Regions from separate parts of the Homo sapiens genome. Here region 1 is linked to region 2. The links come from fine-mapping of genetic effects on gene expression. A gene starts in region 2. The other region holds a variant in brackets. All regions are shown on one strand. Distances are between the middles of the regions.

The links.
Region 1: its variant is fine-mapped to the expression of CEP41 in blood mononuclear cells (TOPMed, PIP above 0.99). The same link has a PIP of 0.9 or more in NK cells.

Annotation. Positions count from the first base shown.
Region 1 is chr7:130,392,227-130,397,604 of GRCh38, forward strand. It overlaps CEP41 (centrosomal protein 41), which reads right to left. Exons shown (of 11, transcript NM_018718.3): 11 at 1,545-5,378. Among named protein-coding and RNA genes, the nearest start is that of CPA1, 14 kb to the left of the region's middle. RefSeq lists an enhancer at 2,456-2,515. The variant C/G (reference allele first, on the strand shown) is at 2,370.
Region 2 is chr7:130,438,572-130,443,949 of GRCh38, forward strand. CEP41 (centrosomal protein 41) reads right to left here and starts at 2,445. Exons shown (of 11, transcript NM_018718.3): 1 at 2,363-2,445. The coding sequence starts at 2,395. It overlaps LOC105375505 (a long non-coding RNA gene), which reads left to right and starts at 3,183. Exons shown (of 3, transcript XR_927973.3): 1 at 3,183-4,117; 2 at 4,199-4,318; 3 at 4,532-4,655. RefSeq lists an enhancer at 2,131-2,885.

The DNA of each region.
Region 1 (5,378 bases), 46 kb before region 2:
AATCATTGAGTTGTGCACTTAAAATGGGTGAATTTTATGGTATGTGATTTATACAATACAGTTGTTTTAAAAAAGAAGCTGGATACAAAATATTGAGTCTGGATCCCATCTTGTTTAAAAGACACACACACACACACACACACACACACACACACACACACACACAAACATGCTTTCTCTCTCTCCTTCTCTTTCTCTTCCTGGAAGGATATATCCCCCAATAATAATAATGATTAACCTGGGTAGTGGTGGTGGTAGTTTTCCTTTTTATGCTTCTCAGCATTTCTCGCAATGAGCTTCTATAATCAGCTTTTATAACGGGCAGGGAGTGAAGGGAGCTATTTCGAACACAGTAGATAACATGTGTGTAAAGTTACCTAACATCGGTGTATTATCAACATCAAACAGCTAAATGGCCATCTTAGTTTTTACTCAGATTCTTTTGATTTGTCTAAACTCATTTTTTTCTGCTCCGGTATAATGTTTCATCATCTTGCCCGGAACGCTGCAGTTTGTCTTATCTTCAGAAAAATTCACACTCCAAGATACAGCTGGAAGCAGCAGTGTTTCTACCAAAGGAAGAGATTACTCAGCTCATGCAGTTGGGGGCCATTCCCCATCCTACCCCTTGTTGTAGCTTGATGAAAATTCCCAAAACCCCTTCCTGCTCACATTCAGTTCTTGTAGCTATCTTGGGAATTGATTATGCTAATGCCTATTCCCCAGGGCCTTTGAAAATCTTTATTTTCAAATGAACTCATTTTACTTTTTACTCAGACCATTACATATGGTTCTCTAATGGCCTGTGGGCCCAATATTGGTGATCTATGAGAATCCTTAGGGTAGCCTCTTGAATTAACACTCAGATATGCACAGCTAGCTTTCTGTCTTTGGCCTAAAGTTAAAATGGGAATGTCATTGAATACAATCCAGATATGACCTCACTGGTCCTTCATCCAGTGCGGGGCGATTCATCACCCTGGCAATTGTTTTGCAAGGGCGAGTGGGATGAGGTGGATTTGAAGATGCACAGGGACTCTTGCTTTAAGGACTACAGCAACATCATTCTGTGAACACACTAAGACCCAGATGCTACTCAGATGAAGCTGATATGACTAACCGTAACATTCAAATTGGCCAAATCAAGGAGAAGCTCTCAGAAAAGCACAGAGCATGCATCGTCAAATCTAAAAAACTGTCAAAGGGTAATGAATTATTCCCCAAAGCTTTCAGGATCTGCATTAATTTGGCAACTCAAACACTGAGCATCATCCAACAACCTCAGAGACTGGGATTGCCAAATGTTTATTGCCAAACTAAAAGGAGAAAATGGAAAGTCTTCTGCTTAACCACAGTAGTGGTATTGGCTACATTTTTAGAAGAGTGCAGTAGAATAAGGGCTCTGCTGACAAGGACTGGGGCAAGGAGGTTTGCCTCTGCTTCCCCCGGGAACTCAGGCCTATGGCCATCGCCAATTCATGCAACTTATGTTTCAGCCGAAATCAGAAACATCACCACAAAGGAAAGAAAAGATCAGGCACAAATCATATCAATATGGTTTACTGAATGAATGGCTAGACCTATCAGGAAAACAGCCTACTTTTTTCCCCCTACAATATAATTAAAAGTTTGTAATTCTCATTCCTTAAGTGGTACTTTGCAAGGTGTCCATTAACAGACAAAATAACCTCGGAAGCCCTGGAGCACCTGTCTTCAAGATAAGACAGCAGACACAGGCGGTGGAAATGTGGAAATACGCATTCCCCAGAGCAGATGTTTCAGTTCCTGAATTTCCATCGCCTTTTGTGCAGGCAAGCGGAGGAAAGTTTTCAAAAGAATCTCGGCTGACTAGGAGGGAAGGGAAGCCAATAGCGAAGGGAAAGGTACATTTTCACGGTAAGTTAGAGGCATCACCAAAGGAGAACATGGTTGTGCCCACCCAGAGTGAGAAGCATAGAGCGGAGTGGCTGAAAGAACACCCTCTGGAGCCACAGTTCTCAGGCTGGCTCCTGGCTTTTCAAACCCTTGGTCAGAGACTGAAGGCAAACCTGAGTCACTTAATTTCTACCCGAACCTCAGTCTCCTCATCTGAAAATGGGGGTGCCTGCCTCATCAGACTGTTGTGGAAATTAAATGGGTCAAAACATATAATGAAGAATCTAGGAGCAAAGTAAGCTCTCCACAAACATTGGCTAGTATTATTATTTTCTGGAAATCTTCAAGATTTGAAACAAAAGAGAAAACCTACTCTTAAGATGGGGGTGGTGTGTGACCTTTGCGTGCTGAATTTGGGAGGATACTTTAAGCCTGGCAGAGACAGGGTAATAACACCCCCAGCAGCTCTCTGGGTACTTCCTGTAGAGGGAGAT[C/G]TAAAAACCTCAGGGTTTTGAATGCCTCGCCCACAAAGGCAGGATACACAAGGGGGACAGAAGATAACGAGCTTTCTGGGTCTCCAGAATGACAGACTAGCACTGAGTGGCCACCACAGTGGGCATCACATCCAAACTTCAATCTTGACAGGTTCAATTCATTTATTCATGAACACTTATTAAGGGCCACTGTCACAGGGTTGGTGATTTTCACTCTCTGGGAGCTTATAGTCAAAATAATTGCAACAGGAAGACATATTGATATCCTTTAAAAGATGCAGCCCATCCGTCCACAGCATTTGAGAAGTGGCCTCTCTTTGCCTCACATTTTACCAGGTGCTTCAGGATGTTACACAGGTGAGAATTTGCTTCTGTACAGAACAAAGAGGATCAGCAACAGAGAGGGGAGCCATCAGGGGATCACAATGTGACAGACACCGTTTCGAAAACACATAAAATCATGCACCGAATCCTGTTCTGCCTGAATTCAAGGCTGACAAATTTCCACCATTACATTTTTTATGTTGTAACTGACCTGTGTATCCATTTAAAGATGTCATAATAATAATTTCAATAATTATTGTAAATCTAGGAAAGTATTACTACCCAAATGTATTCTGAACATTTTGGAAGCACAATGTTATTTATTGCTTTTGCATGAAAAAATAATTGTTAGTGAAAAATTAATGGACCTGCATGTAAGTACTCAACATGCTCACATAATTAAACTGGTGAATTATATTCCACACATTTGCGGTGTTTCCTGGGGAAAAAAAAGTATCGTGGGAGTTAAATCTTTGAAAGAATTGGGAAGAAAATAAACACACATTAAAGACACTGAGAACGTTTTAGAACTGGAGAAAGAAAGGTTCTTACTGATTATCTTCAGAGTAGAGCAAGAAGGTGGTCATGGATTTAAATCCAGGTGGACAGAAACTAATTATTCGCTCTAAAAAAGTCAGATAACATAAAAGACAGAATCTATAGCCAATAAACAACATGACAGAAACCAAAACCAACACAAGAAAAATTACCTACGTATTTCTTCCTAGCCTAGGACTCTGATTTCACTTACATTCCACAAGGGAATTAGAGAAAACACGATTTTTTGTTTTGTTCTGTTTTCTTGGTCGAGTAGCCTAAAGTCTTAAGAATTTTTGTATAATTTAAATAGCACCACAGGAAAAATCCCTGAGCAACTAATGAATGTTATTTGGTCTCTTTTCATTCGGATTTATACCAAGCCCAATATGATCGTGCTGGTCCTGGCTAACCACTAAAGGTTAAAAAAAAAAAAAAAGATAAAAGATAAAATGAATGCAGGCCATTTAAATCATTCCATACTTTTTCAAGAGATTGAGCCTGACATTATTACAGCCCAGGGTGTTCCTTTTGTTTTCAAATAAGTAATGTAGCTTTCTCCTTTCTCTCTCGCTTTCTGCTTCTTTTCTTCTCTCTGCCCTCCCTTCTTCCCATTTCCTTGCTTCTTTCTCCCTTCCTTTCTTTTTTTCTTTTCTCCCTTCCTTAAACACAAACCCCTTTAAAGCATTTAAGGTATTATTTAAACTTTGGCCATCACTGCTGTTCAGGGTGCTGTAGTTGTACATCGATGAAGCACCTTCTGTCTCAGGGTTCACAAGCCCCAGACAAGGGCAGCTAGTCAACCCCTGAGACGCTGGTAGGAAGCCATGATCCAGTTGTTGAAGGTGGCTTCAGTCCCAGCCTGAGCAGGAAAAGAAATCCAGGCTTTCTGACTGGAGAGCTGAGGCCCCCTGCCCTAATTGGACTGATTTCCTGATTCATTTATTTTTTTTAAAAAATGCTTTCCTAGGAGATGCAGCAAAAATCACACCAGTCTCCTGTGGCTCCCCCAAATCATCTCGACAGAAAAGAAGAGAGAAGTTGGCAGTTTTCAGCATATTAATAGCAAACGACAAATTAGTAACTATGTACTTTAATCTTCAACATTCATAATTGCACAAAGCATCACTGGTCATTTAAATAATACATGTCAATTAATCTAATGAAGAAACTGGCAAAGTAGAATGTTAAAAGCAATACCTCGAGCACGTAAAGAATGTTTGATATTAACACTTAACATGCAAAACGCAGATTAGAACAGCTCTTTTGAGCATGGTTATTTAAAATCCTTACCAACAGGGCAAAGCAAGCACTGTGGAGAAATACACATAAATATATCCAACCTGCCAGATCTCTCAGGTGAGTGCACACCAATTCTAACAGGTCTGGCTGACCTGGCTTTCCACATATATACAGTGGTTTCTAATACTCCAAAGTTGTCTGACGATGGGAACGCAGAATCGGAACAAGGAGGGAAGACCATTTACTTTCAAAATAGAATCCGGCAGGGAAGTCTCAACTCCTGACAAGTCACCTTTAAAACAGCATAACCAGAACTTTCTTACAGAGAAAAATCTTTTTTCCTTAAAAATGTATATGTGGCAAAAATGGCTGAAAATCTTGTCCATGCTAGGGGAAAGCTGAGTGTGGAAAAATGTGCATTTTTCTATCTATGCTGTAAAGAAAATACAAAGCCAGAGCATTTTGGCATTAGCAAAGGCTGAACTAAGTTCTCAGGCAATAAATTTATGGGGAAACATGACAGGCTCCTCATTAAAGCTATGTGTACGTTGGCTGAATTTTATACAAGATTCTTGAATCTTGTGGAAAATTGGGCATGGCTTGACATCTGAACAATGTCCCTGGTTTGTTTGATTTCTAAAGCATCGGAAAATGTTGCACTTTGGAAATCAAGTAGAGAAGAATAAACACACTCTAAAACAGAACTGGGCTGAATCTGAAAGTTATTTTTCCATATGTCTCTATGAGATATTTATTACGTTTATTTCTCATACAAACACAGCCCCCATGCTAGAAATACTGTGGTGCATTTTTTTTTTTTTTTTTTTTTTTTTTTGGTGGCGAGAAAATAGTACTGTTAAGGCAAATCTTACCCCGTAGCAGTTACCAGCAGGACAGGCAATTTTC
Region 2 (5,378 bases):
TAAATAAAAAATAGTAACCACTTAACCAATCTCATTTCCAGTCCTGGAGCCTCCTCAAACCCATCTTCCACAATGTAGCTACAGCCATCTGCCTAAAATGCAAATCTGACCATGTCACTCCTTTAATAACTCAAAAAATTTCTCAAATCCTGACCAGCAGACAAGATAAATATGTGGCAAACTGCCATTCTCCTCACCTATCTCTCCCACCCCCATGATACACAATATTAACATTTTTATTAATATTTTGATAGACAAATCATAACTTTATACATTTATGGGGTACAATTTGATGTTTTGGTATATACACACACACACAATGTGGAATGATTAAATCAAATTAACATATCCATCAACCCACTTATCTTTTTTTTGAGGTGAGATATTTGAAATTTACTCTCATAAAATATACAATTTACTCTATTTTGAAATCTACAATATAGTTGAACTTTGGACAACATGGGCTTGAACTGTGCAGATCCACTTATACCCAGATTTTCTTCTGCCTCTGTCACCCCTAAGGCAGCAAGACCAACCCCTCCTTTTCCTTGCCCCTTAGCAATGAAGACAATTAGGATGAAGATGTTTATGATGATACACTGCCACTTAATGAATAGTAAATATATTTTCTCTTCCTTATGATTTTCTTAATAATAATCTTTCCTCCAGCTTACTTTAAGAATTCAGTACATAATACATATGAGATACAAAATATGTTAATCAAGTGTTTCTGTTATCAGGAAGCCTTCCAGTCAATAGTAGGCTATTAGTAGTTAAGTTTTTTTGCAGGGGGGAGGGGAGTAAAAAGTTGTACATGGATTTTCTACTGGGGGTTATGAGTCTGCTGTAATTATTATTAACTATAGTCACCATGCTGTGCCAGAGATCTCAAAAACCATTCCTCCTGTTTAACTGTAACTTTGTGCCCTTGGATCAACATCTTCCCATTTCTGCCCTCCTTCCCCCCACCCTCCAGGCTCTGGTAACCACCATTTTATTCTCTACTTCTATGAGCTGGACTTTTTAAGATGCCACGTATAAGTGAGATCATGCAGCATTTAGACATTACCAATTGACCATGGCTCTCTTGCAGGGCTTAGACTCAGCCTTACAGCTTTCTCAGCCTAGTACCAGGCAGCCACCAAGAGATGAAACAGTTACAACTCCTATTTGGGATAAAGGCTAAGAACCTCAGCAAGGCAGAGAAAGCCTGGACTCCTACAGGGGCCTGTTCTGAGTTCACACACTCCTTACCTTCACTTGGGCTGTTCTACCCGGGATGATGCTTCACCTGGCTAATGAATGGCCTTGCCACCCCTTCCATCTCCACAACCCTTCTCTCACTCCCTCAGTTGAGTACTACCTATTTTCTCGTAACATCTTGCTCCCCGACCACACTGTACTCAAATTCTGTTCACAGGCTCCTTCACTAGACGCAATTTATTTATTGTTTATTTTTATTTTTTTGAGACAGAGTCGCTCTTATCACCCAGGCTGGAGTGCAATGGCACGATCTCGGCTCACTGGAACCTCCATCTCCTGGGTTCAAGCGATTCTCCTGCCTCAGCCTACCGAGTAGCTGGGATTACAGGCGCCTCACCACCACGCCCGGCTAATTTTTGTATTTTTAGTAGAGACGGGGTTTCGCCATGTTGGCCAGGCTGGTCTCAAACTTCTGACTTCGTGATCCGCCCGCCTCGGCCTCCCAAAGTGCTGGGATTACAGGCTGAGCCACCGCGCCTGGTCCACTATACGCAATTTATTAAAGGGCAGAGGCCTTGTCTTCTTTGTACGTCTAGCACCTACTGCACCGTGGAAGTTTCCAATAACGTTTGTTGAAACTGCCACAAATGCAGCAGGGGACTAGCGGTGAAACAGATGAAGAAACTGAAGGGTCCTATGGAGAGAGGGGTAAGCCTAATGTCCTATTTTGCCCGTTTTCCAAAGGTTTGGTCAGCTTACTCCTGCTCTTCCTGTATCCCCACAATCAGAGATGCTGGCTGGCTTTCAACACGTGCCATTAGTGTGCAGCGCTTCCTTTGTCTTTTCTGTTTTGTAACTGTCACTCCGAGACTGTAAGCCATTTGAGGGCAAGGGCTGTGTCTTTGGGTACTTCGCTCCTCGCAGTCACAAGTACTGGCGTGCGTACGCGGGGAGAGATCGCTCCTCAAAACGGGGTCCTGAACGCTGCCCCGCGGCCCCCAAGCCCGGCCCGCCCCGCCCCTGCATCCCGACCCCTCCTCACGCCGGCCCCTTCCCGCCTTCCGGGCGGCGGAAGTCGCTGGCTGCTCTTCCCTGCCCACATGAGCCTTTTCCGGTGCGCCCGCCCCCTCCGGCTCTCCGGCCGAGACCTGGCCCTCACCTCAGGGTTCCCAATGTGCCTCCGGAGGGACATATTTTCTCCAACCGACCACGTTCGGGGTTCTAGCCTCACGGGTTGCCTCTAACCCTAGCTTCCTACCCCCACAACCTTGTTCAGCCGCCTCCCTATACCCTCTTCTCCGATTGGCCCGTCTTCCCCGGCCGGCCAATGGGGGCCCCGTTTACTCTCTCATCTCAGGGTCGCAGAAGGGCAAGACGCCGCTCAATGGTTGCCAAGGGCAACGCGGGACGCCGGCTAGCGAGGCCTTTTGTTCTCTGGGCTGGGGCTCGCCGGCTCCAGCCTTAGGGCGGGAAGAGAGGCGCGGGGGGAGGGGAAGGCTGGCGCCTGCGCAAAGCCGGGGGCGGGGGCAGTGGCTTGAGAGCCGGGACAAAACACGAGTTTTAGCTAATGTGGAACCATAAATACAACACAAGACTCCCCATCCCCCAGCTCCGTTTTATGGCCGTTTCAACCAAACATCTGGGCTACTGATTCCACAACAGGGAATATTATATGGGCCAGGGTTGTTCAGCAGAAATGGGAGAGTATGGTTTATTATTTTCTGGTTAAGTTAATATGCGAATTATGCAAAATACATGGGTAAATACAGTAATTATCGGTGCTTTAAAAGCTTTTAGGCTAGCTATAGAGCGACATCCTTAATTGCAAAGCACACGCGCTATTCTGTGGTTCATCGTTCATTTAACAAATACTTAATAAGCACCTTATGAGAAAAGCTGCAGTAGGTCTTGTGGAGAATGGGAGGATGACTAGGACCCAATCCCGTCGTCATGGAAACCATTGTGACTCCTGCCACCAGCCACCACCTGTTCCCATTCCGGATCTGAAAATGAAGTCCTAGCACCTTTACAAAACAATTACACACACAGTTTGACTTGGCTCCTAAATGTCCCACCAAATCCATCAAAATTATTATTTCCTTTTACATGAAAGGAACAACACAGTAACCCTTTGTCCTTTGCTCTAAGTTGTTTTTCCAGGAATGGAGAAAGGTTACTCTGAGCAGTTCATACTCGCCAGTTGTCTGTTAGTGAATAATAGCACACATTTGAGCTACTTCAGGGTCTGTGAGATGACCCATTCAACAACATGGCCTCACATGCCCTTGTTCTCTTAGGCACTTCAGCAACCCAACCTTAGGGCTACACCTTGGATCATGTTGCCAGTCAGTGCTGCTTGACCAGAATTTTGAATTCTGGCCACAGCTGCTTCTTGGACTTTTCATGTCACTCTTTCATGTTTATTAAGTTTTGTCTTAATTTCCATAATCTTTGCCAGTTCTTTAACCCCTCTAAAATTCTCAGTCTCTCACTCCTCTGCTAAGGAAGGGTTTGAAGGCTGCAAAAAATTGGAAGGAGGCAGAGGGAAGAATGTTAATCTAGAAGCTTTTGCATAGCAAGCAGAAACTTCTAGATTCATTAGTATTTAGAATGTATGCTTACCTGGTGCACCTTGTGGGTAACCATAGAGATTATGGATAGAATAACGGGAAAGGAGAGAGGGAGATGATAGGGGACTACACTCAGAGGTGGTGAGAAAGACAGAAAAGGAGAGATTTAAAGACGTGTAGGTAAAATCAATAGTATACATGAGAAGAGGTAAGGGGTGCAAGGAATAGAAATTCATCAAAGATGGCTATAGTTTCTCTAACTTGAGGAACTGAGTAGATGGGCGATAATGCATTAATCAAGTTAAAGAACAACAGTCAAAAAGCCAAAACAGCAGAAAGTACAAGTAGGTCCAACAGTCCATTCAACTTCCATTCTTCAGTGTTTTGGCTCACTTCTTTGTACGGTTGTCTCTCTTTTGTTCCAGAGAACATCTGGTTTACTTGCCTCACTAGTCATCGTGGTTGTCACATTTGGACTGCACAGGAAGCATTATAGAGAGATTATAGAACCCGGCTGGTTCTTGGATCCAACTGACTGTGTGTCTGTGTGTCTGGGTGGGGTAATTTAAATACATGTTCCCTCCCCAATCCCTCAATTCTGATTCTGGCCGGCGGGTGGGGAGCGGGGGGTGTTGTGGTCCAAGGAGACTCTCCTTTAAAAGAGTCACCCCTTTCCTTCACATTTGGCCTCAATGGAATCCTTGGAAAGCTTAAAGCTATAAACCAAAAGACTTTTAACATCATGTATTTCTCTTTAGGATTCCTTTTGGATCCTGCTATGCCAAAACTGGATCAAAACGAACGCCAAGTGCTTACTTTGAAAAAATAGGCAAATGGTGGTGGCAATGGCTCACGCCTGTAATTCCAGCACTTTGAGAGACCAAGGCAGGAGGATAACTTCAGGCCAAAAATTCAAGACCAGCCTGGGCAACACAGTGAGACCGTGTCTCTATTTGTAAAAAATAGGCAAATGGTACAAAATGATAACTGATAAAAGAAAAACATCCAATAAACATATCAAAAAAACACAGAGCACCGGGCGCGGTGGCTCACCCCTGTAATCCCAGCACTTTGGGAGGCTGGCGGATCACGAGGTCAGGAGATTGAGATCATCCTGGCTAACACGGTGAAACCCCGTCTCTACTAAAAATACAAAAAATTAACGAGGCGCGGTGGCGGGTGCCTGTAGTCCCAGTTATCCGGGAGGCTGAGGCAGGAGAATGGCGTGAACCCAGGAGGCGGAGCTTGCAGTGAGCCGAGATCACACCACTGCACTCCAGCCTGGACGACAGAGCGAGACTCCGTTTCAAAAAAAAAAAAAAAAAAATACAGAGCAAGATAACTAGATCCCATTTTTCAACTATCAAATGTACAAAAGTTTTTTTCTTTAACAATAATGCTTAGTGCTGGCTAATGATTCATGAAACAACATGATCACATATTGTTAGTGCGAATATAAAGGAGCATGATCATTTTGAAGAATAATTTGAGAGTAGGTATTGAGAAGTCCTCAAATCTTAATATGCTAAGAATTCCTCCTAAGGAAATAATTGGACAAATGTACAGACATTACATCCATAGATGTTTACTGGAAGTATATTTAAA